Linked DNA regions of Homo sapiens: regions 1, 3, 4, 5, 6 and 7 are each linked to region 2. The links come from fine-mapping of genetic effects on gene expression. A gene starts in region 2. Each other region holds a variant in brackets. All regions are shown on one strand. Distances are from middle to middle.

Region 1 (4,068 bases), 590 kb before region 2:
GGCCAACATAGTGAAACCCTGTCTCTACTAAAAATACAAAAAATTAGCCGTGCATGGTGGTAGGCACCTGTAATCCCAGCTACTCGGGAAGCTGAGGCAGGAGAATCTCTTGAACCCAGGAGGCGGAGGTTGCGGTGAGCATAGATCTCGCCATTGCACTCCAACCCGGGCGGCGACAGTGCGAAACTCTGACTCAAAAGAAAAGAAAAAAAGAAAAAGAAAAAAAAAGTGTTCTGCTGTCGTTGGGTGGATGTTCTGTCAATTAAAGGAAATTGGTTGATAGTATTGTTCAAATCTCCTGTATCTTCACTGAACTTCTGCCTAATTATCCTATCAATCATTTGAAAGAGGTTATTGAACTCTTCAAATCCAATTGTGGATTTGCTTATGTCTCCATGAAGTTCTTCGGGTTTTTGCTTCTTATATTTTGAAGCTCTATTATTATACACAAAAATGTTTAGGATTGTTGTGTCTCCTTGGTGATTGACCCCTTCTTCACTGTGAAATTTTTCCTGGCCACATGCCTTGCTCTAAAAGCCATGTTTTTGTTAACAGAGCCACTCCAGCATTGTTTTGATTAGTGTAAACACAGTATATCTTTCCTTGTCTTTTACATTTAAAACATTTATGTTTATATATTTAAAGTATGTTTCTTTTAGGCAGAAAATAGACATGTGTCTTGTTTTTTTTAATCCAATCTGACAATCTGCCTTTTCTTTTCTTTTTTTTCTTTTATTTTAGATTCAAGGGTACATGTACAAGTTTGTTACCTGGGTATATTTCATGATGCTGAGGTTTGGGGTATGAATGACACCATCACCAAGACACTGAACATAGTACCCAATAGTTAGTTTTTCAACCCTTGCCCCTGTCCCACCCTCTAATAGTCCCCATTGCCTATTTTTCCCATCTTTATGTCCACAGGTACCCAATATTTAGCTTCCACTTCTAAGTGAGAACATGCAATCTTTGGTTTTCTGTTTCTGTATTAATTTGCTTAGGATAACGGCCTCCAGCTGCATCCATGTTTCTGCAAAGGACATTATTTTGTTCTGTTTCACGGCTGCATAGTATTCCATGGTATATACGTACCACATTTTATTTATCCAGTCCACCATTGACGAGCACCTGTGTTGATTCCATGTCTTTGCTATTGTGAATAGTGCCGAGATGAACATGCAAACACATGTGTCTTTTTAGTAGAATGATTTATTTTCTTTGGGATATATATCCAGTAATGGGATTGCTGGGCCAAACGGTAGCTCTGTTTTCTTTGAGGAGAAATCTCCAAACTTCTTTTCACAGTGACTGAACTACTTTACATTCCTACCAACGTGTATGAGAATGCCCTTTACTCTGCAGCCTCCACAGCATCTGTGATTTTTTGACTTTTTAACAATAGCCATTCTGACTAGTACGAGATGTTATCTGATTGTGGTTTTGATTTGCATTTCTCTAATGATTAGTGATGTGGCTGGGCCACTTATCTGTCTTCTTTTGAGAAGTGTCTGTTAATGTCTTTGCCCATTTTCAAATAAGGTTATTTGGGTTTTGCTTGTTGAACTAAGTTCCTTATAGATATTAGACCTTGGTTGGATGCATAGTTTGGCAATTTTTTCTCCCATTCCATAGTTGTCTGTTTATTCTGTTGATAATTTCTTTTTCTTTTTCTTTTTCTTTTTTTTTGTTTGTTTGTTTGAGATGGAGTCTTGCACTGTTGCCCAGCTGGAGTGCAGTGGTGCAATCTTGGCTCACTGCAGCCTCCGCCTCCCAGGTTCAAGCAATTCTTCTGCTTCAGCCTCTCGAGTAGCTGGGATTACAGGCACCTGCCACCACGCCTAGTTAATTTTTTTTTTTTTTT[G/TG]GATTTTTAGTAGAGACGGGGTTTCACTATGTTGGCCAGGCTGGTCTTGAACTCCTGACCTCACTGTCCACCCGCCTCAGCCTCCCACAGTGCTGGGATTACAGGCATAAGCCACCACAACTGGCAGATAATTTCTTTTGCTGTGCAGAAGCTCTTTAGTTTGATTAGGTCCCTCTTGTCAGTTTTTGGTTTTGTTGCAATTGCTTTTGGGGACTTAGCCATAAATTCTTTGTCAGACAGTATTTCCTAGGTTGAGAAGGGTATTGTCCAGGTTTTCTTCTAGGATTTTTATAGTTTGAGGTCTTACATCTAAATCTTTAATCCCTCTTTAATCCCTCTTTAATCTTAATCTAAATCCCTCTTTAATCTTAATTTTTGTATATGGTGAAAGTTAGCTTTGTATACTTTATATAGGGGTCCAGTCTTATTCTTCTGCATATTTTATATAGGAGTCCAGTTTCTTTCTTTATATGTGGGTCCAGTTTCATTCTCTGCATTCTTCCAGTACCATGCTGTGTTGGTTACTGTAGCCTTGTAGTATAGTTTGAAGTTGGGTAATATGATGCCTCTGGCTTTGTTCTTTTTGCTTTGGATTGCTGTAGGTATTCGGGCTCTTTTTTGATTCCTTGTGAATTTTAGAAGAGTTTTTTCTAGTTCTATGAAAAATGATGTTGGTTTGATAGGAATAGCATTGAATCTGTAGATTGCTTTGGGCAGTGTAGCCATTTAAATGATATTGATTCTTCCAATCCACGAGCATGAGCATGGAATGTTTTTCCATTTGTTTTTGTCATCTGTTGTTTCTTTCTGCAATGTTTTGTAGTTCTCCTTGTAGAGATCTTTCACCTCCTTGGTTAGATATATTCTTGAGTATTTTTTGTTTGTGTGCCTATTGTAGATAGAATTGCATTCTTGATTTTGCTCTCAGCTTGAATGTTACTGGTTTATAGTAATGCTATTGATTTTTGTACATTAATTTTGTGTCCTGAAACTTTGCGTAAGTCATTTATCAGCTTTAGCAGCCTTTTGGTGGAGTCTAGGGTTTTCTAGGTGTAGAATTATATAACCCATGAAGAGAGATAGTTTGGCTTCTTCTTTTCCTATTTGGATGCCTTTTATTTCTTTCTCTTGCCTGATTGCTCTTGCTAGTGTTTCTAGTACTATGATAAATAGAATCTGCCTTTTCATTGGCTTGTTTAGACCACATACATTTAATGGGGTTATTGCTATGATTAGGTTTAAATTTATTGTGTACTATTTGTTTTCTATTTGCCCCAAGTTCTTTATTTCCATTTTCACTTTTTGCTGCCTTCTTCTGGATTAATTAGTTGGATTCCCTTCTTTTTCAGCTTTGTTGTTGTTGTGTTGTCGTGTTGTTGTTGTTGTTATTGTTTTAGTGATTGCCATAGGGTTTATAGTATCTGTCTTCAAACTGTTAGTCTTTCTTCAAGTGATATTATACCACTGCATGTATTCTGTAAGAGCCATAAGATAGTATACTTCCATTTCTCTCATCCAGGGCTTTATGCTATATTTGTCACACATTTTACTCATACATACATTATAAATCCTACACTGCCCTATCATTTTTGTTTATACAATTACTTTTAAGGAAATTTAAATCATAGGAAAAAGGTCTTAGAGTTGCTATAAAGTTACCTTAGCTCTTCAGTTCTTAGATCCAGTTTCCCATCTGGGGTCATTTTCCTTCTGCCTCAAAGACTTCTTTTAACATTTTTGGCAGTGTCATTCTGCTGGTCAGAACTGTCTTGCTTTTGTATGTCTGATAACGTGTGTATTTCACCTTCAGTTTTGAAGGATGTTTTCTCTGGGCATGGAATTCTAGGTTGAAGGTTTGGGTTTTGCTCTGCGCTTTAAAGGGGCAGCTCCACCATGTTCTCTCGTGTCCTTCCCAGTGAGAAATCTGCTCTTGTTCTGCATCTGTTCCTTTGTGCTGCTTCTCTGGTTGCTTTTAAGATTAGATTATGATGTGCCTTGATTCATTTTCCTCATTTTTCTTGTGTTTGGGTTTTATTGAACTTTATGGAGTGGTAGATTTATACTCTTCATCAAATTTGGATATTTTTCAGTCATAATCTCTTTAGATAGTCTGTCTGTCTACATGGATGTCTTTAGATAGTCTGTCCATCTACTATAGTCATGTCCATATACATGGCAATCATGTATAGTTGTCCCATAGTCCAGTG
Region 2 (4,068 bases):
TTTTTCTCAAACATTATACATTTCCAAAAGCTTAAGGAAAATCTTAAGGCAATTAATTTGGCAGAAAACATATGGCAGAGGAATAATAGGAAATGCCTCCAAAACTGATAAGAAAGGAATTACAAAGCCAAATATGAAGAAACAGAAAGTTTCATAGAACCCACAGCACAGCACCCTGGTTCCAGCTAAGGTAAACAGACTGCATAAGGCTGGCGGCCTGGCTCTGGTAACACTTGGGAAACAGTACAAAGTCCTGGCAGTTAAAGGGTTCTACAGCAGGGCAACCTCAGATTTTTCAAGATTGTGGCATGCTCAAATTCTCCTTTTTTTGGTAATAAAAATATACCTACAGTATATAATAAAAATATACATACAGCACAGGCATTGAGGAAGATGAAAGAGATACCATGAAATCAAGTTAATGTCATAATTTCCAGAAAGAGGAAACCAGTTCCTGAATTTTGAGAAATAAGATCCTTCGGCCACTATGTGAAGTTTCTTCTATAGGAAACTGTAGTCTCTACCCTTTGTATATGGTAGAAAATCAGAGACTCATGCATTTGAATAAAAATCACAATGATAAAGGGAGAAATGGCACTTTCAAAGATGAAAACTGGTTGAGAAATCATTCTCTCTAAATCTTAGGGGGAGGCTCTTAAGGGCTAGCTTCAGTTTGTATCTCTGGTGTTAGGTGATGGAAGTGATTTCAGAGGCCCAAAGTGAGTGCTTACTGGTTTGCTAATGAAAAAAGCCTGACGTGCGGTTCTTCTTCTATGGCAACAAAGTTATTCAACCTAGCATTAAGGTCTGCATCCATGAAATAATACTTTACAGATATGAACACTTCCACAACTCCTCAAGCGCACACACACACACACACACACATGCCCCGCACCATCACCACCTCCTCAACCAACACCAGCCCTGGGCATGGCCAGCTATCCTTGTTAGTCATGTATCTGCAGAGCATAATCCTTCCCTTGTACTTTCTAGGAATTATATTTTTCTTAACTATGCCTGCAAGATTTTCATCTATGAATAAAAAACATTGAAAAGATAAATTATGAATATGTGGTTATATACAAAGTCTGTGACTTCTAATGTCCAGATTTTAGAATGATGCCTAATTCTGGAGGTCTCAGAGGTCCAAGTGGGAGTGGGTACCATGAATGGGGGGGCCTCCATTTAAAAGTAACCTTCTAAAGAGCTCTCTGTTCCTGTAGCTCCCCTTTCCTTATTGGAAGGGTCAAAACGAAGTGTGTTCCCTTAAAAATCCAACAAGAAGTTCCTCTCTTATATCCAAATATAAAAACACCACAAAGAAATATACCATTGGGAGTGTCCAAAGCCAGAAAGTCAGAGGAAGAGAGAGAGAGAGAGAGAGAGAGAGACTGACTATTGGGAGACTCAAAAAGCCCAAAGCCCCTTCTCTAGCTGTTATCTCAGTTACGAACACAACGTACTGATTTTCCGTGGGAACCTCATTATTGCACTGTGGGGACTTCGTCTTCCAGCACCGATTCTGACGGCCCTAATTGCCTTGTTTGAGAAATGTTAGGAAAAAACTAATTTTCCGGCGAATATTGTTTAAAAGAATGATTTTCCCAGGCTAACGACCACAACCCTCTCCCACGTCCAGCATCCCCAGGCCCTGGCACTGTGGAAGCCTAACTTGTTAATTGTCCAAGGAAAACGACTGATGGAACTTCTCCACGAACAGCCTCTCCACTTTCATCCAGGTATTCAGCTCCAGCCCGTTGTAAACGCTCCGGGTGCGGTGGAAAAGGCCTCCTCCCTGTTCCTGCAGCGGCTCTGGGGGAGGGGTGCTGATGTGGAGCGCTCCGGCCGCCGTGGCGCGCCCAAGTCCCCGTCGCGCCCGGGATCGGTGGGGATTTTGTTGGAAAGGTGGGTCCTTCGGCCCCCAGCCCCCCACCCTGGTTCCGCGCCCCGCCCGGGCCCGCCTCTCACCTCCGTCGGCTGAGGGCGCTGGGGCCACCGGCATCCTAGCGGGTGGCGCGCGGCGGTGCCGGGGCGCCCGGTCCTGCGCTCGAATGCCAGATGGGCTGGGAGGCCCGGCAGTCTCAGCGCTCGCGACGTCGTTCCCGGGCCTGGGGTCCTGCTCGGTCGCGTCCTGCAGCCGCCTTCTGGTCCCTGAGTCCCTGTTGCCCGTCCCCGGAACCGGCTTCCTCGGCCTCTGCCCGAGCGAGTCAGAGACTAAACTTTTCCAGCGGCCCGCCGGGGCGGGACCCGCGCTCCGCCCCTCCCCTCGCCGCCCCCGACTCCCGCCCCTCTCCCCGCCCCCCTCTCCCCGTCCCCCGCCCGCGAACCCGGCACTCCTCCAGCTCCCCACCTCCCGCTCAAGCCGCCTGGTCTCCGTGCGCCCCGCCCGCCCCTAGCCTGGACCCCTTCTCCCCGACCCTACCAATCCCCTAGGGTCCGGCTCGCCCTTCGGCCCCTGTTCCCAGGCCGGCCTCCAGACCTTGTCCTCATCGGGCGAGCTCCAGGTGCAGAAACCGGGCGCCCAGAGACCCAGCGGGAACAGGCTTGGAACCAGGTCCGAGGTCTGGGCTTGGGCGGGCGCCTGTCGCCCTGACAGCGAGGGTTTGTTTGGGCCGATTCTTAATAGGAGGATTAATACTATCATTATCGTTGTCCAGATCCTGACCATTTCTTTTGTAACTGGCCGAGCACCGGCTTGGGCTTGCAGGTGGGCGCCTGGCGCCGGACAGCGTTTTTGTTTGGGCTTCTTCCTTTTCCGCGCGGGTCCCCTCCGGCGCCTGCCTGGTCCCTCTCCGCGCTCTACCCCCAGGCACGCAGAGACTTGGGCTCCAGGCGGGGGCAGCACTCTCCCCCAGCCTCTGCTGGTGCACCAGAGCCCACTCCGGCACAGAGCAGCGCCCCTCCTAGACCGGCAGCCAGCAGATCTCAGCCGACCCCCATGCGACCCCCTTCCTCACGCGGATTTGCCCCTTTTGTGTGGCAAAAATAATAATAATAATAATAAATCCATATGAAGGCTTCAAACAGAATTCCGAGAGAAGGAACTGCCAAATTTTCAATCAATGCCAAAGGCCATGATTGAGCGAACACAGAAACAACTGTAGAAGCTTGGGGAGAAAGGAGAAAATTAAAGAAAAAGGAGGAGGAGGAAAAGGAGAGAGGAGAGAAGCGGGAGGAAGAAGACGAAAAAGCAAGGAGAGGCCTGTTATCCGACCGTGCATTCCTGGGCCGGCAGGATTGGGCCGCAGGGGCCGCTGCAGAGAGTTGAGTTTGTGCAAAGGCCGCTCGTTACTTTCTGTCTTTTGCCCTCTTGCCTCCAGAGGATCAGCCCAGCGCATCCTTCTCTTGGAGCAGGGTGCATACGCTTATTTGGGGTGCAGTTTGAGCGGTGAAGGGCACCAAGAGTGGAAGTCGGCGGCACTCCTGTTCCCTGCAGAGAAACGCAAGCCCTCAGCAATTGAGCTGAAGGAGGCAAGTGACTCTGCCTGCTGAGGCTGCCAGCCCTAGAGGCTCTGGCCCCCGGGAGCTGGGGTACTTCCCAGCGTTTTCGCCTAAGCCACTTCGCCTGTGCTACTGTGGAGTCTTCCGGCACTGTAGCCTTCCAACTTGTTCAAAGTGCCTGGTGCACGGCTCTGAGAAGCCACTTCTGTCCCAAGTTTCATGTGGGCCTGAATGTGCTTCCCTTTGTTGGACTCCTACAGCATCAAGTCAAGAAAAGAAGGAAACATGCTCCTTTGGCATTGGTCACAACCAGGATAACAATACAGCATACTGTGGCCACTGTGTCTATATTACCAAAGTGGTCAGTAGGTTCATCACACCTCTGTTCAATTAGTTGCTTCCCGTGATGAAAAATTTACTGCTAGGATACTGGCTGAGGGTTGTTTTAAGGGGCACCCAAGTCTCCGTTCCTAGAGAAAGTCAGTTACCCTGATATAACAGAGCAACCTTGAGGCGTGGTGATGCCTCCAAAACTAGTCTGCGGAATCGGAGCCCAGAAGCCCTGAGGAGTAATGTGGCTCTCATGCTTTATGGCAGGTTTCCCTAAGAGAGACCCAGGATCTGACC
Region 3 (4,068 bases), 180 kb after region 2:
ACAGTAGACCACACTCCATGAAGATGGAGTGTCTGCCTCAACCCAACCCAGGGACTGACCACAGGGAGCCGGCAAGAGAGTCAGTCATCAGTCATGATGCACGGCGCTCTACCGAGGAGTCAAAGGCAGGAAATGAGAATAGACTGGAGGTCGGTGAAGCGCTTTGTCAGTGGCCAGGAAAGCAACAACCAGCTCCCACGCAAGGCTCTGGGACAACTTGAGCTCCTGCCTCACTCTCTCCAGGCCTCCCCTACACTACTTGTATTTTGGGACCAGCATGCTCGGAATATCTGGTATGACGAAGATGGGGCAGAGAGAGTGAGAGAAAGAGAGACCCAGGCCTAAATTTCTCCACTCGTTACAGGTGTGGAAAGTGAAGGAGGCTGCCCAGGAGATGTTTCATGAGTTCTGACTTTATGGCACATCACCTGGGAGGCGATAGCAGATGGCCCAGTACTAGTCCCAGCTTTGGAGCAGGCAGATCAGAAATGCCCTTCCCCCGGGATACCTAGGAAGAAGATGGGCCAGGAAGGCTGCAGAGTCCTTTCTCCCCTAAGTGACCTGCTGGAAATGCTCAGCAATTCTTGTTAGAACAACAGATCTCGTGCACATCCATAGAAACATGCATTTGTGCAAACAGAATCCCTTCTGCTTTGGTGCACAACCTTTTGCACAAATTCACGCTTTTGAGCAGACACTCCGCTTCTGGGGCAGGAGTACGTCACTGTATCAGTCTTTCATTTTCTCTTCTGGCATCTGAATACTCTCATTTCTTCTTAATTTTCCACCAGTTTTTCCTCTCGTTTGCTACTGATCTGCCTGGCTCTCCTTTATACCGCATCTGAGCACCCTGCACATGCCTCTTGAAAGTGAATGAGTGCCTTAATTGGAAAATGCTCTCTCATTCACCACAGGGAAGAGAAGAATACTCCAGCTAATAATGTCTTTTCCACAGAGCCCTCGACCAAATGACTCTCTCTGTTTTAATTGAGAGCCAAAGCTTTTGAAAATGAATATGTATCTTCAGGGATGGATAAAGAATGCAGTTTGATCTTATGGAAATGTCACGTTGGGATGTGAAGGTGATGGATTGTTCAAGAATCAACCAAAGAGGACAGCTCTGGCCCAGGCTGCTGAGGGACAACCGAGCTCAGATGATGCCCCCAGAGAGCAGTGGGATAACTGGGGAGGGACCACATGGTGGTTGCCAATGAGTCTCGATAGGTAGAAAAAAGGACTGAAATGAAGGCAGCAGCTAAGGACAAGGTGACAGTCTGTGACTTTGAATGGCATGCTATTTCCAACAAGCATCCCAAAGCAGAAATAAACATGGTTGGAAGGGGAGTGCAGAACATGAAATATCTACTGAGAGCTGAGGGCCACACCAGGGTGGTTAGGAGGGGAAAGAAGAAGAAACTTCAGGAATAAAAGCATTTTAAGTCTCTTAGCAACTGCCTATAGATGGAGACACGCTGGGTGGAGGCTGTCACAGGGCTTCTTGCGGGGTGTCCACCCCTCTGTTGGCCTCCTTGGACACCACTGCCCTGAAAAGGAGGGGAAAGTGCATTTCTCAAGCTGAAGCCCTGGCCAGGGCCTCTAATTTTACTTCCATGAGTGTGCCCTGATTGATTTTGAAAGGGAGGAGGTGGATCATAAAAAAACACAGCCCACAGCCGAGCCATAATCAGCTGCAGCTGCTGCTGGGATAGAGTCCTGACAGGCAAATGGCATCATGATGGAGCATTCCTTGGGACTGGCAACATTCGGCTGCCAGTGTGGGGGCAGGGAGGCAGTCTATTATTAGGAACATGCCTGAGATGTGAGTTTGCAGAATTCATTGCTCTA[G/C]ATTAAAATCACTTTTGCAGGGAACAAACTCTGGAGATGGTGGAGGTACGTAGACTTCCTCTCAGCTTGAAAGATGTATCAAACTTTAAGAGGGGCTTGGACCACCCATTTGCAAATTGCTTTTTCATGCAGTTAATTTTATTTATTTTTCATCCAAATCTTAAAGCAGACCCCTCCTTTAAAAGTGTATGGCCAGCCGCGCTGGCTCATGCCTGTAATCCCAGCACTTTGAAAGGCCAAGATGGGTGGATCACCTGAAGTCAGGAATTGGAGACCAGCCTGACCAATGTGGTGAAACCCTGTCTCTACTAAAAATACAAAAATTAGCCAGGTGTTGTGGCGGGCACCTGTAATCCCAGCTACTCGGGAAGCTGAGGCAAGAGAATTGCTTGAACCCAGGAGTTGGAGGTTGCACTGAGCCAAGATCATGCCATTGCACTCCATCCTGGGCAACAAGAGTGAAACTCCAGCTCAAAAAAAAAAAAAAAAAAAAGTATATGGCCAATAGATCAACAGAAAGTGCCCTAAAGTAAAGGACTGTTTACATAAATGACTAAGGCACATAGGGACCCTGGAGGCTCTGACCTTGACCTGGGTCTGAGTGGGGAAACCCCACACGCTCATTTCTTAGCGTTTCTGCACGCATGTTTTGCTTATTAAAGAGAATTATAAATCCCATGCTTTCTAAATCTTTTGATGGAAAGCAATTTTCTTCCCAGAGATGAAAAGATGTTAACATGAAGGCGCTGCTTGGAAAACAGGGCACAGGACTGGCTGCATTTCAAACGAGGTGCCGGAGCTTATGCAACATTTACAACGGAATTCATTAAAAATTGGTTTTGCTCTCTGAGGACCTGTTGGAGCATCTAGGCCTCATGTGGGGGAGGCTGGGAGACTCTGTGAAAAGGATTATTTGGAGGGTGTATCGAAGCCCCCTGTAGGTGTGGAAGGTGTTTTCCCTTTTAGCTCAAGTCAAGAGCTCATCCTGCCCGCTTCCGTGTGAGGAACTGCTTCCTGTGGCTGTTAAGATCATGGGGAATGGGAGACCCACTGTGCTGGGAGTGATGCCCTGTCAGAGCCGGCTGCAGCTCAGGGTGCAGGAGGCCTGATGGGATGTGGGCCTGGTGTGGGAGGTAGCAGCATCAAAGGCCAGCTCAGCTCCCTCCACCTCTGGCTCCCTGAGTAAGCGACCCGCAGAAGTGAACCCGACTGCAGGTGAAGGGGCTGCGGTCACAGACCCTCCCCGCCCACCCAGTGAGAGGGGAGCTTGGCAAGCCAGAATGCACTATGAGAGGGTCAGCAGGAGGCCCTTCCTGGGCCCAGAAGGCAGGTCCTCAGGGCTCTCCTCCTCCTGTGGTCCCTCCTCCAAACCTTCATGTGGAGCAGTGAGCTCTCAGCCATAAGTGGAGAGGCCCTGGACAACAGGAGAGACCAGGCTCAGACAGACTGACTGGCCCTGAACTGGCCTGCCCGCCCACATGTGCCTGCAGGGGACGCTCAATTCAGGTCAACACAGGATTCAACACAAATGACCAAATTGAGACTATATTCTAAGACTGTGTTTTGATGGCTTGAGTAGACAGAATACTTCCATCAAGAGTTTTTTTTAAAAATAGTAAGAGAAGTATAAGGCCTGCTGCATTGCCGTCCCCGGGGAAGAGAAATATTCCCTCCACTGAAGACTTTCTTAGAGAGACAAAGAGAGTATTTTCTGATTGTGCCACGCAAGTCTAAACCAGCTAAAGTGCAGGTATGCGGATTTTATTTCTTATTAGCAACAAACAGTTTGATGATACGCCAAAGACAAAGAGGAGGAGTTGGAGATACTTCCATGAGCAATGCAAATTTAGAAAACCCAACAATGGAAACCAGAAACAGAAAGAGAAAAAAAAAACACTCAAAATAGGAAACAGAGAGGGAACAGGCCAGCACCTGGTTGGGGCCCCGCACTGGACAGGATTCAGGGTGGACTGTCCTTACCTGTTTTTCACTATCTGTCTTCATTCCTCCATTCAGAACACCCTCTGCTTCATTTGGATGGGCAATTGTCTTGGAGTAATTTTCTATGAAAAAGGGTGTGTTTTCCGTATTGAATCCCCAGGATCATGGTTTATGATGCTGGCATTGCAAGTCCCTGTGGCTCTTCAGATGCTGTGAGTGCCAATCACAGATCCACAGACTTTTCAGGCTTACTCAGTGTTAGATCCCCAAAGGCCCCTAGAA
Region 4 (4,068 bases), 40 kb after region 2:
CCCTGAGGGTGGTACACTACCCAGGCTTTAATCCCTGTCTCCCAGGGAGCCAGAATGTTGTCTCCAAAAATTCAACTCTATGACCACTTTCACTTTCAAACTCTCTAACACAGAAGGTCCATTGTTCAACTTTCTGGGCAGAGTTTAGTTCTCAGATGAGTTTAGTAGAAGCTCCAAGCACAAGGCCCAGTGTCCATTTTCCCTAAGCACAAAGGCCGATTCCTGCCCCTGGGAGAAAGGAGGGCCAGACCTGGAACTGCCCCACTCTGGGGAAATTGCTCTCATTCCTTCCTAAAGAGTCCACGCAGCAAGGGCAGCATCCTTAATGCAACACAAGCCTGTTTCCTGTTCTGACAGAGGCCAGAAATCCCACGAAGTCAGAATGAGACATCGCTGGGCAGGACTCACATCCCTCATTCCCTCTGATGTGTAGCAGATGACGGACTGTGGGTCCCTAATGTTGTGGTTAATCTGTGGGTGAAGCTGAACACTGAGCGACACAATTTGCTCCCACTGTTCCCGACTCACCAGATGAAAGTGGTTAGTTATGAGTGTGGAACTGGGTGGTGTATCTACCCTCAAGGGCTGCTCTTGTGTGGCCCCCACCACACTGTCCAGGGCACCTCTGTCCTCTGCAGGCAGGTCCCTATCTCCCGATGCCCACTGATCCCACTGACTCAGCACTGTGGGCTTACAGGGCATCCCTTAGAGGGGCCAGGTGAGGTGAGAGCTGCCCTGAGCAGAGTGGCTGGTGCATTGAAGGGATGTGTGCAGCAGCCTGGTGCAGAGTGGAGGGGAACTGTGGGCACCAGACCCACCAGGAGGAGGCTGAATAGGGCTGGGTCACAACTTCAGTCTGCTTGATGTGAATGGGGCGCTGTTAAATGCAGGTTCTCAGGCTCTGGCTCCCAAACTTTGAATTTGGTGGTCTTAGGAGTAGCTTTTTATTTGTGTTTTAAATTAATATTCCCAGGTGGTGTATGCACAATGCCCTGAGAAGCAAGAGCTTCTTATGTTTTTTGGGGGGACAAAGGAATGGATACTTTATTGTGCAACCTCACCCTGGTGGGAGAGCTGAGGGATTCCTTTGTACTCCATGCCCACTCCATCCTGGTGTGGTGGTGAAGACAGCGGGAAATGAGAAGGAGCTTGCTTGTGCCTTCCTGCTCTTTTCTATGAAAGGCTGGCACTAACAACCCGATCTTTTCTTGGGTGCCCCTCTTTTGGGTTCTGAGTACCATCAAGCAATGCAATGGCCTGTGATGGTTCACCCAATCCCCAATCTATGAGGACCATGGGTGCTTAAAAATTTATCCTGATAGGACAATGGCTCTCAAAGTGTGGCCCCAGGATCAGCAGGGCCAGCATCAGCTAAGAATTGCAAATTCTTGGATCCCACCCTAGATCTGCTGAGTCAGAGTCTCTGGGGTAGGGCATTTTTAAAAGTCCCCCAGGGGATTCAGCTGTATGAGAACCACTGCAATAAAGAATAATACGTTTTGCACCAATACAGACCAGCTGTATTCAGCTCATGTTTGCCATGGGGAAATTCAGCTCATGTTTGCCAACACCAGAATTGGTGGCCTTGTTCCACCACCATTTTGATGCCCATTTTCCAGGGAAACCAGAAGGCATCCCATCTCTCTGTCTCTTTCCAAGCTGGCTTGTCTCCTGCCAGAAACTTTCTCTGACCTCCTTCTCCAAGGCTGGGTGATGAAGGCCTCGTCTCAGCTCCCAGGGCTCCTTCTCTCACTAGCAGACCCCAGAAAGCAAGCCCCATGCATCATAGCACAGGCCAGGAACAAGGTGATGACCCTCCCATGATGGTCTTCATGATGACCATGAAGTTGGCCAAATATCACTGCTGGCAACATTGCTTGACTTCTACCCATAGAAAGGTGCTGGGTATTAGTCAGGGTCCTCTAGAGGAGCAGAACCAATAGGATGCGTGTGTGTGTGTGTGTGTGTGTGTGTGTGTGTGTGTGTGTAGACAGAGATACTGATTTATTTTAAGGAACTGG[C/A]TCATGTGATAGTGAAGGCTGACAAGTACAAAATCTGCAGGGCAGGCCAGCAGGTTGGAGACCAGGGAAGAGTGGAAGACTTGATGCTTCAGCTGGAGTCCAAAGGCAAAGGCAGTCTGGGGGCAGAATTCCCTCCTCCTAGGGAGAGGTCGGTTTTCCCCTAAGGCCTTCAACTGACTGCATGAGATCCACCCACATTACAGAAAGGAACCTGCTTCACTCAAAATCTACTGGTTGAAATGTTAATCAACTCTTAAAAATACAGCAGGTGTTTGACCAAACATGTGGGCACCATAGTCTAGCCAAGCCACCACATAAAGTTAACCATCACATCAGTGACACCATGGGAGCAACACAACTGTGCAGCTATCTGGAGAAGTGTTAGGTGGGAGACATTGTTAAACTGCGTTGGATGCATGTATCTGCTCAAGGACATGCACATGTACACACATGTCTGCACATGCATTCACAATCACATGTGCACATGCACAGATACACACACATGCACACACACACAATGCATGGATCACAGCATGAGGCAATGACCACACAACAGTGCCCATGAGGTGAAATCATTAAACTGAGGTCTTGATTTGACCATCCTCCAAACACACATTTTTCTATGTAACACAAAGCAGGTCAAAAGCCATTCTGCATCTGCCCAGAGCCCATCTCCCAGAGGCCAGGTCTGTAACTCACAACCCAAGGACTTTTACTGGTTTCTGTTTGATCCTCCTCTCTAGGAAACTAGCCCTTAATGCATGAGGAATGAAATTCTCACTATCTGCAGCTAATCAAGCCATGTTTGTTATCCCTAGCTAGTATGACTCATTAATTTTCTGCCATGGTGTTTACCTCACAAAAAGTATTCTAAGTAATCCGTGCCTGCCGTGAAGAGTTTAAATGCAGTATTTTGACTTTTAGTGGACAGTGACGTCTTTTTACCGCAATCCATTTCTCTCCATTCTTAAAAACAATGGGGATAAAAATCGAAGTGTTTGAAGAGCTACTCCTTAAATACTCTGACTCACACTGGACGATCTCACTGGTGTGTGCTTCTTGCAGGCAAAATAATAGACGAGTCTTCGTTTTCCTGGGCTTTTAAATTCATGATGTTTTCAATAATTTTAAACTTATGACAGTGAGCACATTTAAGTGAAAGTTTTTGAAACTGTTTTTGTCTTGTTTGCCTTTGTCTGTGATGTGTTTATACAGGACTGTTTCACAACTATGCTATTGTGAAAGACATGAACAATGAAGATGTGTGAACAAGCTCTCATGGCCCAGGGGATTATAGCTGTGCATGAAGTAGTGAGTGGAGGAGGGGGCCAGCCCAACCCTAAGCAGGGGCTGCAGGCAGCCCTGCGGACTTTGCTGGAAAGCCTGAGCCTCTCTGGGAACAGGGCACATCTCTTGAGCAGAGTCAGGTCATGGAGCGGCTCTGGTTGGGGAGGAAGGGGCAGCTCCAGCTGCTAAGCTTGGCTGAGAAGATGCCACTGGCCATTCTAGGGCAAGTATGCCAAATGCTTCTGTGAGCAAATGCCTTTGCTTTTGGTTGCTTTCATCAAAGTTTCAAAGAGATCTGTGACCCTCTTCGTTTGGGTGTTTGGCTGGAGTGTGATGAAGGTGTGACTGCAGGGCCTTGTGGTGGAGGCAGGAGTGTGTAAACAGCCCCACTGGGTGTGGATGATGCATGAAGATTCTCAGTTGCTAGTTGAGTCACCAGGTTGGTGGCTGGAAGCTTCTTCAGAACTGGGCAAAAACAGTAATGAGATTGATTCCCAGCTTTTATTGGCCTAATGAGCTGGCACTAATTTGGACATGCCACTTCACACTCAAGTTTGCATATCTATAAAATTGAAAGGGGGCAAAGTAATCCCTTAATAGTAGGCATTTTAACATGGACACACTCGGGTGCACAGAGTGCCAAAGTGTTGGCCAGGCATGTTTGCAATATGAAAGTTTGAACTAGATTTCTCTTGGGGAATTCATATACACATTATAAAATACATGGTGTATTTATATGAGCACTGGGGAAAGAAGTGAC
Region 5 (4,068 bases), 120 kb after region 2:
GCCACCGCGCCCAGCCAATAAAGTTGATTTTTAAAAAATGTTTCAGGCTCCTGCTTAACCCACAAACTTTAAAACATTAGGAGATCTGTTACTTTTTAGGTGAAATTGGAGAACACAGCCTTCTCTGGAGTCATTGGTATTTGAGGACTTGAAACAGGGAGTACTCATTTTCAGGGCACTTTCAAGATTGTAGAATATTTTGCACAGTATTTCCCTGAGGCAAACAAGATTTCAGTCTGTGAATAGGTTTCAGTGTTTGCTTTGGTTCTTTTCAACACAAGTTTACTCTAAAAAGTAAAGCTCTTTTCCCCCAAAAGTGAATAGTGCCATGACACATTACACTCTCCAAGGAGACTGGTCCTTTCGGCAGACACTCTTTGGAGAGCCACAGTCTCTTAGTCATAGTGACAACTTCTCCCATCCTCAATAATGGCCCTGCACTTATGTGCAGAGACGCCAGGTGGCCATCAGTAACACATGAACTTCCAGTTTCTCCTGCCCAGGAAAGATAATCATATTTACAGGGGTGATCCTTCACATATTCTAAAGCCACTCCTTTGCTGTGACTGCCTGATACTGTGGTATGTGGCTGAGCCACCGAGTGAGTGTAATTGGCTTAGCACGGTGCCAACAGAGCCAAGGTCACAGGCGGGTCAAGGTCAGGCGAGGGGAGGAGATGGGGAGATGGCCGCAGCACAATTTGACCCCTTTCACTGTTCATGTGTCAGCGCTGAAAGCAAACAGCAAATTAATTCCTCAAGTACTTGTATTGTCTAATTAGAAAGAAAATAGCAGTTTTGGGGGCCATAACTTCTGCCTAATTCCAAAGTTCTCAAGTCACTCATGAAGTGATAGTGGCAATGCATATTTATCCATGTTGCCCACGTTTGAACGTATGTTAAAGAATGAAAATCATAACTGTCATCCCCCAAAAGCTTTGAGAAACAGAAAACTCTTCATCCTTGAACCTGCCATCCTGAATGGTCCCTCTTTCTCTTCTGGAATGTAAGAGACTCCCTGCCTCTCGGGCTCTCCAGGGAAAACTGTGTGAGCCTGGAGTCCCTGATCACTGCACCGATCAGACTCCCCTTCCTCGGCAGCTCCTGGTCCTCCTGAGAAGCGCATTTGCATGGCCAGGACAAGGAGAATGAAGCAGGGCCGGTGGGGCTCTCTGCTCCCTCGGGACTAGCAGTGAGAATGCACACCCCGCAAGCACAAGGGTCCTCAGGTGCATGATGCAGCTGGACAGACCCCTCCTGGCAACAGCGTGAGTGCTTCATGAAGATCCGCCCCGGGGCAGGAGCCCAAGAGCCAAGAGCTGCCCAGATGAGGCTGTGACCATGCCAGGAGAACGACCTCTCATAGGTGCTCCATCTCAACAGTGTTTCTAATCAAAACATGAAAAAGGATTATAGATTGGGGAAGAAGAGTAATTCCAGACACACCGGCTCTGCTTTCCCCTCTCCCACAGGAAACTGGGATTTGCCAGTGTATGTCCTCTCTCTCTTTCTCTCTCTCACTCTCTCTCTCTGTCACTCTTTCTCTCCTTTGCTTTTCTGCTTTCTGTCTCTTTCTCTCTGTCTCTGTCTTTCTCTCACTCTCTCACTTTGTCTCTCTGTGTCTCTCTCTCTGTCTCTCATTCTGCCTCGCTGCTCTGTCTCTGTCTCTTTCTGCCTCTCTCCCTCCCTTTCTTCTTCTTTCTTCTTTCTTCCTTCTTCTTCCTTCTTCTTCTTCCTCTTCTTCTTCTTTCTTCTTCCTCTTTCTCTCTCTCTCTCTCTCTCTATCTCTCTCCCCCTCTCTCTCTCTTTGTTTCACTCTCCCACTCTCTGTCTCTTGAATCTTGGTGACTGCCTTAGATGGGGTGGGGTGGAATGCAGTAGAAGCGATGCTGTGTGGCCTCCAGAGCTGGATCACAGCAGGAGACACTCAAGTCAGCCTGGTCCTCTCGGTTCTCTCTCTCTCTCTCTCTCTCTCTCTCTCTCTCTCTCTCTCTCTCTCTCCCCACACCGCTATCTGCTTTTGACTCTTTCTCAGTGTCTTCCTCTCCCTCTCTCTCCATCTGCCTCTCTCTCTTCCTCTCTTCTTCCCTTCTTTCTTCTCTCTGCCTCTCTCTTTGACTCTTTCTCTCTCTCCTTCCCTCTCTGTCTCTTTCTTTTTCTCTCTCTCCCTCTCTCTTTCTCCTTGACTCTTCTATGTCACTCCCTCCCTCCCTTTATTTCTCCCT[C/T]TCTTCTTTATTTCTGTCTCTCTTTCTCTCTGTCTTCTCTCTGGGAACTGTAGGTTCCATTTAGACATGGACAGCTCAGATAAGGGGGTGTGGAAGAAAGTAATGAAAGGTCACAGAGGACTTGGAGCAGAACCAGCTTTGAAAGACCAAATTCCAGGCCTGAGAATGTCGCATTGTATTAGTGCAAGGTTGGTAACAAGAAATTAGCGCTGAAGGTTGAAAGAGTGGATGGGGGGAGATGGAGAAAAGGAAAATGCACATAGATGGTTTTCATACTTTTAACTTCTTTGCTTGACTTAAACATATTGTTTCCCTAAAGAGGAGTGCCCCCTTCCCTCAAAAAATAAAAGAAGTTTAGTGTTGGGCAGTCCCTTATTTTTGTGTGGCCTTGAGTGTGTGGACAGGATGAAAGTGCAGCTTTAATGACAAGGACTGGCCCTGGAATGCTGACAGGAATAATGACTGAGCAGCAACTTAGTTTTCCACATCAGAGCAGGATTTATATTCCATTCACCAACCCTCAGAGGAATTTCCCCTGTCTCTGATTTGGCCTTGTGAATTTTCCGGCTCATAATATCTCTAAGCAGAAGCAAATGTCTGGAGGGGGGAAGCCTGGTTGACAAAGAGAAGCAGCTCTTTGTCTCTCACTGCAGTTTTAAAAAACCCCACAGATTCCTAGTTTCATGGGCACGACTGCATTTTCATCAAAACCAGGGGCTGGGAACAGGGTGGGCGTTGAGTAGCTGGGTTCTTCCTTCAAAGAAGGTCCATTTAGGGACTTGGCTATGGCCGGGCAGTGGGGGACAAAACAGGCCTCACAAAAGTCCTTCCTGGGAGGAGAGACCAGAGATGAGCTAAGCTCAGTTCCTTGTTTCCTCTGGAACATTCCTCTGGAATGGCGACAGGGTGCTGCTTGAGGGGCAACTCACAGCTGGGCAGTGTGACCCTTGCCGTCCATGCCAGCGAAGCAATAACCTCTTCAGATGTCCCCAGCCAGTGCCCCGAGGATCCCATGCTGCAGCGGACACAGCGCTGGGCTGCAGGGGAGGGCTTGGTTCCCAGTGGCCTCACCCCCTAGAGGCCATCAGCATCGCACAGCTTCTCCACTTGGGGGTGACCACTGAGATCTGTGACTCCACCTGAAGGTAGAGAAATACATTTTTAAAATGACAAAATAGGCCAGGCAAGGTGGCTTACACCTGTAATGCCAGCACTTTCGGAAGCCAACTTGGGTGGATCACCTGAGGTCAGGAGTTTGAGACCACCCTGGCCAACATGGCGAAACACTGTCTCTACCAAAAATACAAAAATTATCCAGGCATAGTGGTGGGCACCTGTAACCCCAGCTACTCGGGCGGCTGAACAGGAGAATCGCTTGAACCTGGGAGGCGGAGGTTGCAGTGAGCCAAGATCACACCACTGCACTCTAGCCTGGGCAGCAGAGCAAGATTCCATCTCCAAAAATAAATGAATAAAATACGAATGACAAAATATCTATATTTAATTCATCATTATGATGATCGAACACTCATTAGTAGCTCCTGCTATGGATCATGCTCTTTGAAGGCAAAAAGTACAAAATATGGTCCCTGCCTCAAACTGCTTATGTGTGTTTGGAGAGGGGCTACGCACATTTAAAAAGGATGAAACAAATGGTAGCATCTTAGGGTTGCTCAACTCAAGTTATTCTTATTAGATGTGTATATACATATATACCTCCCAGTTTTGCATATATAAATAACATCTCACACTGGAAGTGAAGTGAGAGATTGGAAAGTCTTTCCCCAAGTCTTTCCCTAACTCTTTAAATAAGTTATTTGACAATATGAACTTTACTGGATTCT
Region 6 (4,068 bases), 130 kb after region 2:
ACACACATAAAGGTGTTCATAGTACCCTTGATTGATCTTTTGTATCTCTGTAGTATTGGCTGTAATACCTCCTGTTCCTTTTCTAATTGAGCTTATTAGGATCATCTCTTTTCTTTTCTTGGTCAATCTCATTAACAGTCTATCAATTTTATTTATCTTTTAAAAGAGCCAGTTTTTTGTTTCATTAATCTTTGTATTTTTTTGTTTCAATTTCATTTCATATAGTTCTGCTCTGATCTTGGTTATTTCTTTTCTTCTGCTGGGTTTGAGGTTGGTTTGTTCTTGTTTTTCTAGTTCCTTGATGTGTGACCTTAGATTGTCTGTATTCTTTCAGACTTTTTGATGTAGGCATTTAATGCTACAAACTTACCTCTTAGCACTGCCTTTGCTGTATCCCAGAGGTTTTGATAGTTGTGTCACTATTATTGCTCAGTTCAAAGAATTTTTTAACTTCCATCTTGATTTTATTGTTAACTCAGTGATCATTCAGGAGCAGGTTATTGGTTTCTGTGTAGTTGCATGGTTTTGAGAGTTTCTTTTGGAGTTGATTTCTAATTTTATTCCACTGTAGTCTGAGAAAGTACTTGGTATAATTTCAATTTTCTCAAATTTATTGAGACTTGTTTTGTGGCCTATCATATTATCTACCTTGGAGAATATTTCATAAATAGAAGGTATATTCTGCAGCTATTTGATAGAATGTTCTATAAATATCTGTTAAGTTCATTTGTTCCAGGATATAGTTTAAGTTCATCATTTCTTTGTTGACTTTCTATCTTGATACCTGTCTAGTGTTGTCAGTGGAGTATTGAAGTCCCCCACTATTATTGTGTTGCGGTCTATCTCATTTCTTGGGTCTAGTAGTAATTGTTTTGTAAATCTGGGAGCTCCAGTGTCAGGTGCACATATATTTAGGATTGTGATATTTTCCTGCTGGACTAGTCCTTTTATCATTACACAAGATCCCTCTTTGTCTTTTTTAACTGCTGTTGCTTTAAAGTCTGTTTTGTTTGATATAAGAATAGTTACTTCTGCTTGCTTTTGGTGTCCATTTGCATGGAATAGCTTTTTCCAACCCTTTACCTTAAGTTTATGTGAGTCCTTATGTGTTAGGTGAGTCTCTTGAAAATAGCAGATAATTGGTTGTTGAATTCTTATCCATTCTGCCATTCTGTATCTTTTAAGTGGAGTATTTAGGCCATTTACATTTAACATTAGTATTGAGATGTGAGGTACTATGCTATTAATTGTGCTATTTGTTGCCTGAATACCTTGGGTTTTTCATTGTGTTTTTCTTTTATAAGTCCTGTGAGATTTATGCTGTAAAGATGTTCTATTTTGGTGTATTTTAGGATTTGTTTCAAGATTTAGAGGTCCTTTTAGCAGTTCTTGTAGTGCTGGCTTGGTAGTGGTGAATTATCTTCACATTTGTTTGCTTGAAAATGACTGTATTTTTCCTTCATTATGAAGCTTAGTTTCACTGAATACAAAATTCCTGGCTGATAATTGTTCTGTTTAAGGAGGCTAAAGGCAGGATCCCAATCTCTTCTAGCTTGTAGAGTTTCTGCTGAGAAATCTGCTGTTAGTCTGATAGAGCTTCCTTTATAAGTTACCTGATGTTTTTGCCTCACAGCTCTTAAGATTCTTTCCTTCATCTTTATTTTAGATAACCTGATGACTGTGTGCCTAGGCGATCATCTTTTTGCAGTGAGTTTCCCAGGTGTTCTTTGAGCTTCCTGTATTTGGATGTCTAAATCTCTAGCAATGCTGGGGAAGTTTTCATCTATTATTCCCTCAAATATGTTTTCCAAAATTTTAGATTTCTCTTCTTCCTCGGGAAAACAATTATTCTTAGGTTCGGCCATTTAACATAGTCCCAATCTTCTTGGAGGCTTTGTTCATTTTTTATTGTTGTTTTTTTTTTCCTTGTCTTTGTTGGATTGGATTAATTCAAAAGCCTTGCCTTTGAGCTCTGAAGTTCTTTCTTCTACTTTTTGATTCTATTGCTGAGAGTTTCCAGTGCATTTTGCAATTCTC[C/T]AAGTGTGTTCTTCATTTCCAAAAGTTGTGATTTTTTTTAATTTATGCTATCTATTTCACTAAAGATTTTCCCATTTATATCCTGTATTTTCTTTTTGATTTCTTTCAGTTGGACTTCACCTTTCTCTGGTGCCTCCTTAATTGGCTTAATAGTCAACCTTCTAATTCTTTTTCTGGCAATTCTGAGATTTTTGTCTTGATGTTTTGGGGGTGTTAAAACCTTGTTTTGTCATATTACCAGAATTGTTTTTCCAGCTCTTTCTCATTTTGGCAGACTATGTCAGAGGGAAGATCTGTGACTCAAGTGTTGCTGTTCAGATTCTTTTGTCCCACAGGGTGCTCCCTTGATATGGTGCTCTTCCCCTTCTTCTAGGAATGGGGTTTCCTGACAGCCTAACTGCAGCCATTGTTATTTCTCCACTGGATCTAGCCACCCAATAGAACTACCAGGCTCTGGATTGGTACTGAGGAGGGAGTGTCTGCAAAGAGTCCTGTGATGTGATCCATCTTTAGCTCTCTCAGCTATGGATACCAGCACCTGGTGGAGGTAGCTGGGGAGTGAAGTGGACTCTGTGAGGGTATGTGGTTGTATTTTTGTTTAGTGCACTGGTTTTGTGTTCGTTGGCCTCCAGCCAGGGCGTGGCACTTTCAAGAGCACATCAGAATTCCACAGCTGTCCCATGGAGCCTGCAGCAGCAACCCACCTCCTTCAAAGGGTCTTTGGATTCTCTCAGCATTCCTGGTATGTTCCTGTGGCAGGTCTTGGAGCAAAATTTCACAATGTGTGTCTCCACACACTGCTCTGTCCATCTGAGTGGGAGTTGAAAGTTAGTCTTGCCTCCTCTCTGCCATTTTCTCTCCCAGACAGTTCTGGAGACTAGATGTCCAAGATCAAGGTGCCAGCTGGTTTAGAGTCTGATAATAGCCCAGTCTCTGCTTCCAAGCTCCCAAGATTTCTTATTTTATAATTTCCTTTATGTTTAACCCATTTCCCTTTAGAAAAAAAAATGCAGCTCACTGCCAGCACTCATTTAATTTTACATGCTCTTTGAGGCTGAGTCAAATCTGACTGATTTTCAATGTGAAAATGAAATATAAAAACTGTTTTTGCAGTTACTTCTAAACAGAACTTGTCTCTAATACTAATGTAACAGAAATGTCTATGATGTCACGTTAGGATTAGAGAGAAGAGTATTCTCAGGGCAAAGAGGAAATGGGTTAAATAACTTCCTTTAGTTATTCTTTTGGGGTTGGTCTGTTGGCAGCAGATTCCCTTAGGTTTTCTTCATTTGAGAGTGTCCTGATTTCCCCTTCATCCTTAAAAGATATAATATTCTGTACTAACAATTCTGTTCTTTCTGCGCTTACAAAATGTTGTGACCCTTCCTTCTTGCCTCCTTGGTTTCTAATGGAAAACTCATTGTCATTTAGACTGTCTTTCCTCTGTAGGTAAGACATCCTTTCTCTTTTGCTGCTTTCAATATTTTTTCTTTGTTTCTTTGTTTCTAGTTTTCAGAAGCTTTAGTATGATGTGTCCTGGTGTTGATCTCGTTTGGAGTTTATTTCACTTCTTGAATCTGTAGTTTAAGTCTTTTGCCAAATTTGGTATATTTTCAGCCATTACTTATTTGAATACATATTTGTTCCTGCAGCATTTCTATTCTTACACTCTTATTACAGACTATGAGGATAGAAATTCAATTTCCTGGCATGGTGGCCACTGACAGCATGGAAGCAGGAGGTGTCTTACTGTTGGGCGGGGATGAAAGTCTTGACTCTTAACTCCAGCTGCTCTGATACCAACCAGGATGAAGAAATTGGGGATAGGGGTGTTTGGAACACCTTGTTACTTCATGAGGTTAGGAGTTTGGGGTCCTTGGCCTTTGCTGGTGTAGGTGGGGATGGGATCAAGTGTTTTCTGTGTTTTTTGATTGGAATTGAGCAATTACAGTCTAAAAGTTTAATATCTTGTGAGGCTGCTCCTTTTCTGGTGTTTTGGCTAGCAAGAGTAGGTTTTTGTTTGGACTATTT
Region 7 (4,068 bases), 250 kb after region 2:
AAAATGTGCTAAGAGAGTAGAACTGAAGTGTCCTCACACACACAAAAATAATGGTAACCATGTGAGGCAGTGGAAGTGCTGATTAGCTTCATCTTGGCCGTCACTTCATGATATGCACATGCATCAAATCATCACATTGTACAATTAACTGTATACAAGCTTTATTTGTCAATTACATCTCAATAAAGCCAGGGGGTGGAGTCGGGAGGGAGGAACTTCTGTCTTGCTCTAGGTTTATGCAGTATCTTGTAAAGACAGCATGAGTCATCATCACTATCTGGCCCAGCCAAGTACTCTGGGGCCCTTTGTGCTGCAAATCGGTTCACACACACCAACCAGTGTCTTCTCATGATGCACAGCTGGAAGTAATTTCTTTTTAAGCTTTAAAAAAATTCAAGACACAGCTTATCCTTGGTGTCCACCCGCAGGTAGTCAGGCCCTGAGAACATGTCACCTGTGGGCAAACGCTAACTTTCCCAAGACCAGGATTAAGTGTTGAGTGGGAGGTGAGGCCTTTGTCCTGCCCCTCTCTCCCTGTGTGGACCGACTGACCAACCCGCCAAAACACTTTGAGAGCCACTAGACATAGTAGCTTACTTCTTCTCATGCAGATATTCCTTGGAGGAGCCTGGTGTATTTATTTTAAGAGTTGCTTTCAGAAACAGAGGACCTCTCTTCTGTTTCACAAAATACATGTCACAGAGAAGAACAAACCCACCCATGGCCAGCCTCTGGCTGTGTAATTGCTACTCTGCACAATAGGAAATGAGTGGCCACGGCACAGGTAGCCCATTTGGGAGTCGCCTAGAGCCCTGTCCCTACAAAGAAATTATAACGTAGCAAAAAACCAGAGGCTCCCTTCCTTGAATATCCAGGCTTAGGCCTAGAGCACGGAAACAAGACCAGTGTAATTACCTCGCATGCATAATCACTGCTGAGACCTGAGAACAGAGGCCGGGCCCTGCCTGGCCTTCGGCTGTCTGGCCATAAGCAAGCAGCCACTGAAACCAGGCAGCTGGGGTGCAGGGTGTTTGTGTGTGTGAAATGGCTCTGCTGCCCCGAAGCAAGGAGCAGGGAGATGGCTTTTCCCTGTGTGGCTTACCTGGGTCAGAATCAACAAGCAGGAGCATAAAACAGAGATCAGACCCCAGGAGGAAATGACAGCCAGGCCCACTTTGTGTGCACGAGTGAGGGTAGGCATGGGGAAGATTCCTGTTTGCTTGTCCCTTTTAAAAAAGCAAAACCGGCACAAGACTGTGGTCAGGAGCTCAGTATACAGGAAGGGGCCGAAGTCTGACAGCCTTCCTCAGAGCCCCGGGTGGCCTGGGGAGGAAGGCATGCTGCCCTGAGACTGCTGTGCAGGGATCCCTGGAATTCTCCTCCAGCATTAGCTGTGGTAGAAGGGACTTTTCTATTTTGTGATTCAATCTTTTAGTTAGATTGCTTGGGGGACTTGATACTAGGAAAATTTTAATGGTTTTACCTAAACAAGGGATAACCTTGTTTTGGAAGCTTATGATATGGAGGAAAGAGTTAACTGTAAAATCGGCAGGCCTGGGGAAAACAAAACCAACCAAGCAGTAGCCAGGGTGGGTGCAGGGCTGTAGCCAGAGCTCC[G/T]GGCTGCCCCACGGCACTCCCACTGCGTCAGGGAAGCCTTTTCTGGCCTCCTAGTTAGGAGGCATCTCCTATTACACACTCTTGGAGCATTTTGTAATTCTTCTGAGAGTTTATTACCCTAGCCAATGAATAATTGTGGAATTACTCAATGTTGTCTCCCCCTCTGGAACATGATACAAATGTCAGCTCCATGCCTGACTTGTTTGTTGCGGGATTCCCTGCGCCTAGACTAGTGCTTTGCACATGCAAGGAGCTCATATTCATTGAATAACTGGATGGGAGGGTGGATGGGTGGGTGCATGGATAAGAATGAATGGTTGGATAGGTGGATGGACAGATTGAACAGACAGGCAGGTGGATGGATAGATGGATAGAAAGATGGATGAATATAGATGGAGATAGATGGGTAGATGGATGAATGGGCATGTGGGTAAATGATTGCAGAAATGCATAAATGAATGAGTAGATAGATGAATGGGTGGGTGAAGTGGATGGGTAGATGAATGGATGAGTGGATGGGTGGATGGGTGGATGGATGGATGGATGGAGCCCACAAGGTCATTAAAGCATTTTGTTCTCTAACTTCTGAACTGAACTCCACTGGTTGTCTATAATAAGAGCTTTTACAGAGGGAGGTTGAACACCCAAGCATGTTGGACATGAGTGACAGCAGCTAGCATGGTATCTCTGCCCTAGATGCACTGATGGCAGCAGAGAGCTCTGTCCCTTGGGAGGGCATTGTGCAGGGCTATCAGGCAGTTTCCTGGGCCCTGTCTGCAGAGCCTAAACAGATCACATCTGGCCAGTCTCAACAGGGCCTCCTTACCCTATAAACCATGCATGTATTTATGTAACACTTCAGGCCTGATGGAGACCAGATGTGACCAAATGGTGCTTTATGCGGCCCAGGAATGCTGAAATACCAACATAGACATCTTTTATGGCTGCTCTTGCTCAGCAATCTCTCTTTAAATCTTAGGTTTGAGCCCTGATATACAACCATTAACTTCATTCTTCTGTGAAACAGAAACATCTGGCAACATCTATTTGATTTGTTATCCTTATAAGAGAAATACAACTATGTACAACTTCTATTCTCAGTTAGTGTAGTACAGTAAAAAGAATGTTGATGGGGAGGCAAGAAACCCAGACCCAGCTCCGCCCTGTACCTCCCTTACTGGCTGGCCTTGGGCCAGTTGGTTCTCACCAGGACTCAGTTTTCCATTGGTAATTTCAAGAGCTATCATTTATTAAACACTTCCTGAGTTCTAGGCACCCTACCTTGTGCTCAGTAAAAGCTACAGATCATTGCCACAACTACACCCCTATTCAAATGTACAAATGGATACATAGGCGTGAGTTTCCAATACCCATCATCCTTAGGAGGCAGATCCCAGTCTCAGTCTTCTGACTCCAAAACCACCTCTTCCCATTAAACCAAATGGCGGCTTTCACCTGCAAATAAGGAAGTGCAGCTGAATTGCTATTTTCTGAATTTGTGTTCCTTGGACACTTCTGTTGGGAGCGACTAATAAGTCTTTTGACCCCTCTCCAAAGAATGTGTGTTTAGGGACACTGAGGAAGTGTCCCTGAACACACATTTGGGATTTTGGATGCCCACAGAACATTACAGATGCTACAAGAATTTAAGCCTGTTTACTGTGGGGTTTCCTCATTGGGCCGCTAGAATGCCTTTGTCCCCTGAAACTCCTATTAATATCTTGAGGATCACTGATGCACATTCATACAAAAATGTTGATTGAATAGGTTTCATGCTCCTGGCAGGACAGGCTGTGTCTCTGCACTCAGGGAGCAGCCACCTTACTGACCCAGGTGCAGCTCAGCCCTGATTGCCCCTTCTATACTTTCCTGTTTATACAGAGCTCCTCCCTTCTCCCTCCATGGATGTATTTACAATGTAGAGATGCTGTTAATACTGTCGGCTGCTGCTACTTGAGAAAGCTCACCACACACTTTCCATGGGGATTGGGAATGGAGTTGAGCAGCCCCATTTAGTTTCACCAAGAGTAGTGGGACCTTGTGTACTTGTTTTAAAGTCTCACTCCCTGAAAGGGCCAGAACTGGATTCTGAGTGACATCTACCCAGTGCAATTTCTCCATTGAATAGAAAGAAATGTGCAAAACATTCTAATTATGCTTTTACAACAAGCTTTTTAAGAAAAATTACATTGCAAAGACCCAATCAGTGCAAAACTTGCCCTGAAGTTCCTTACAGTTTAAAATCACCATATCCCCTCTGCCCCTTCAGCTTCCTTCTGCAATTTAGGGTGCTCGTGACGCAGAAGGGTTAGGGGCTGCAGGAGGTCCACGTGCTTTGGCTCTGATCACAGACTGCAGCTGTAGCTTCATCTCTGTCTCTGCTCTACTTAAGGACAGCTGCCCTCAGAATGCCAGGCTGGAACATCTAAATTCTACTAAAATGATCACTCA

Alleles and levels. Positions count from the first base shown, and alleles are read on the strand shown. Sizes are in standard deviations (SD) of each study's normalised expression. Not every link is listed here.
With allele G in place of TG in region 1, the expression in pancreatic islets of the gene that starts at base 2,196 in region 2 is lower (moderate effect, 0.53 SD a copy in PISA).

The links. PIP is the estimated chance that this variant, and not a neighbour inherited with it, causes the effect.
Region 1: its variant is fine-mapped to the expression of S1PR3 in pancreatic islets (PISA, PIP 0.95).
Region 3: its variant is fine-mapped to the expression of S1PR3 in sun-exposed skin (GTEx, PIP above 0.99).
Region 4: its variant is fine-mapped to the expression of S1PR3 in whole blood (TOPMed, PIP above 0.99).
Region 5: its variant is fine-mapped to the expression of S1PR3 in whole blood (TOPMed, PIP above 0.99).
Region 6: its variant is fine-mapped to the expression of S1PR3 in whole blood (INTERVAL, PIP 0.95).
Region 7: its variant is fine-mapped to the expression of S1PR3 in fibroblasts (GTEx, PIP above 0.99).

Annotation. Positions count from the first base shown.
Region 1 is chr9:89,582,962-89,587,029 of GRCh38, reverse strand. No RefSeq gene overlaps it. Among named protein-coding and RNA genes, the nearest start is that of GADD45G, 20 kb to the left of the region's middle. The variant G/TG (reference allele first, on the strand shown) is at 1,862.
Region 2 is chr9:88,989,596-88,993,663 of GRCh38, reverse strand. It overlaps S1PR3 (sphingosine-1-phosphate receptor 3), which reads right to left and starts at 2,196. Exons shown (of 2, transcript NM_005226.4): 1 at 1,969-2,196. RefSeq lists a silencer at 2,356-2,650.
Region 3 is chr9:88,812,358-88,816,425 of GRCh38, reverse strand. No RefSeq gene overlaps it. Among named protein-coding and RNA genes, the nearest start is that of MIR4289, 68 kb to the right of the region's middle. The variant G/C (reference allele first, on the strand shown) is at 1,846.
Region 4 is chr9:88,949,793-88,953,860 of GRCh38, reverse strand. No RefSeq gene overlaps it. Among named protein-coding and RNA genes, the nearest start is that of S1PR3, 40 kb to the left of the region's middle. The variant C/A (reference allele first, on the strand shown) is at 2,022.
Region 5 is chr9:88,871,010-88,875,077 of GRCh38, reverse strand. All of the region lies in intron 1 of LOC124902205 (a long non-coding RNA gene), which reads right to left. Among named protein-coding and RNA genes, the nearest start is that of S1PR3, 120 kb to the left of the region's middle. The variant C/T (reference allele first, on the strand shown) is at 2,225.
Region 6 is chr9:88,855,182-88,859,249 of GRCh38, reverse strand. All of the region lies in intron 1 of LOC124902205 (a long non-coding RNA gene), which reads right to left. Among named protein-coding and RNA genes, the nearest start is that of MIR4289, 110 kb to the right of the region's middle. The variant C/T (reference allele first, on the strand shown) is at 2,038.
Region 7 is chr9:88,744,180-88,748,247 of GRCh38, reverse strand. MIR4289 (microRNA 4289) reads left to right here and starts at 2,343; the gene lies at 2,343-2,412. RefSeq lists a silencer at 240-534 and an enhancer at 431-1,119. The variant G/T (reference allele first, on the strand shown) is at 1,618.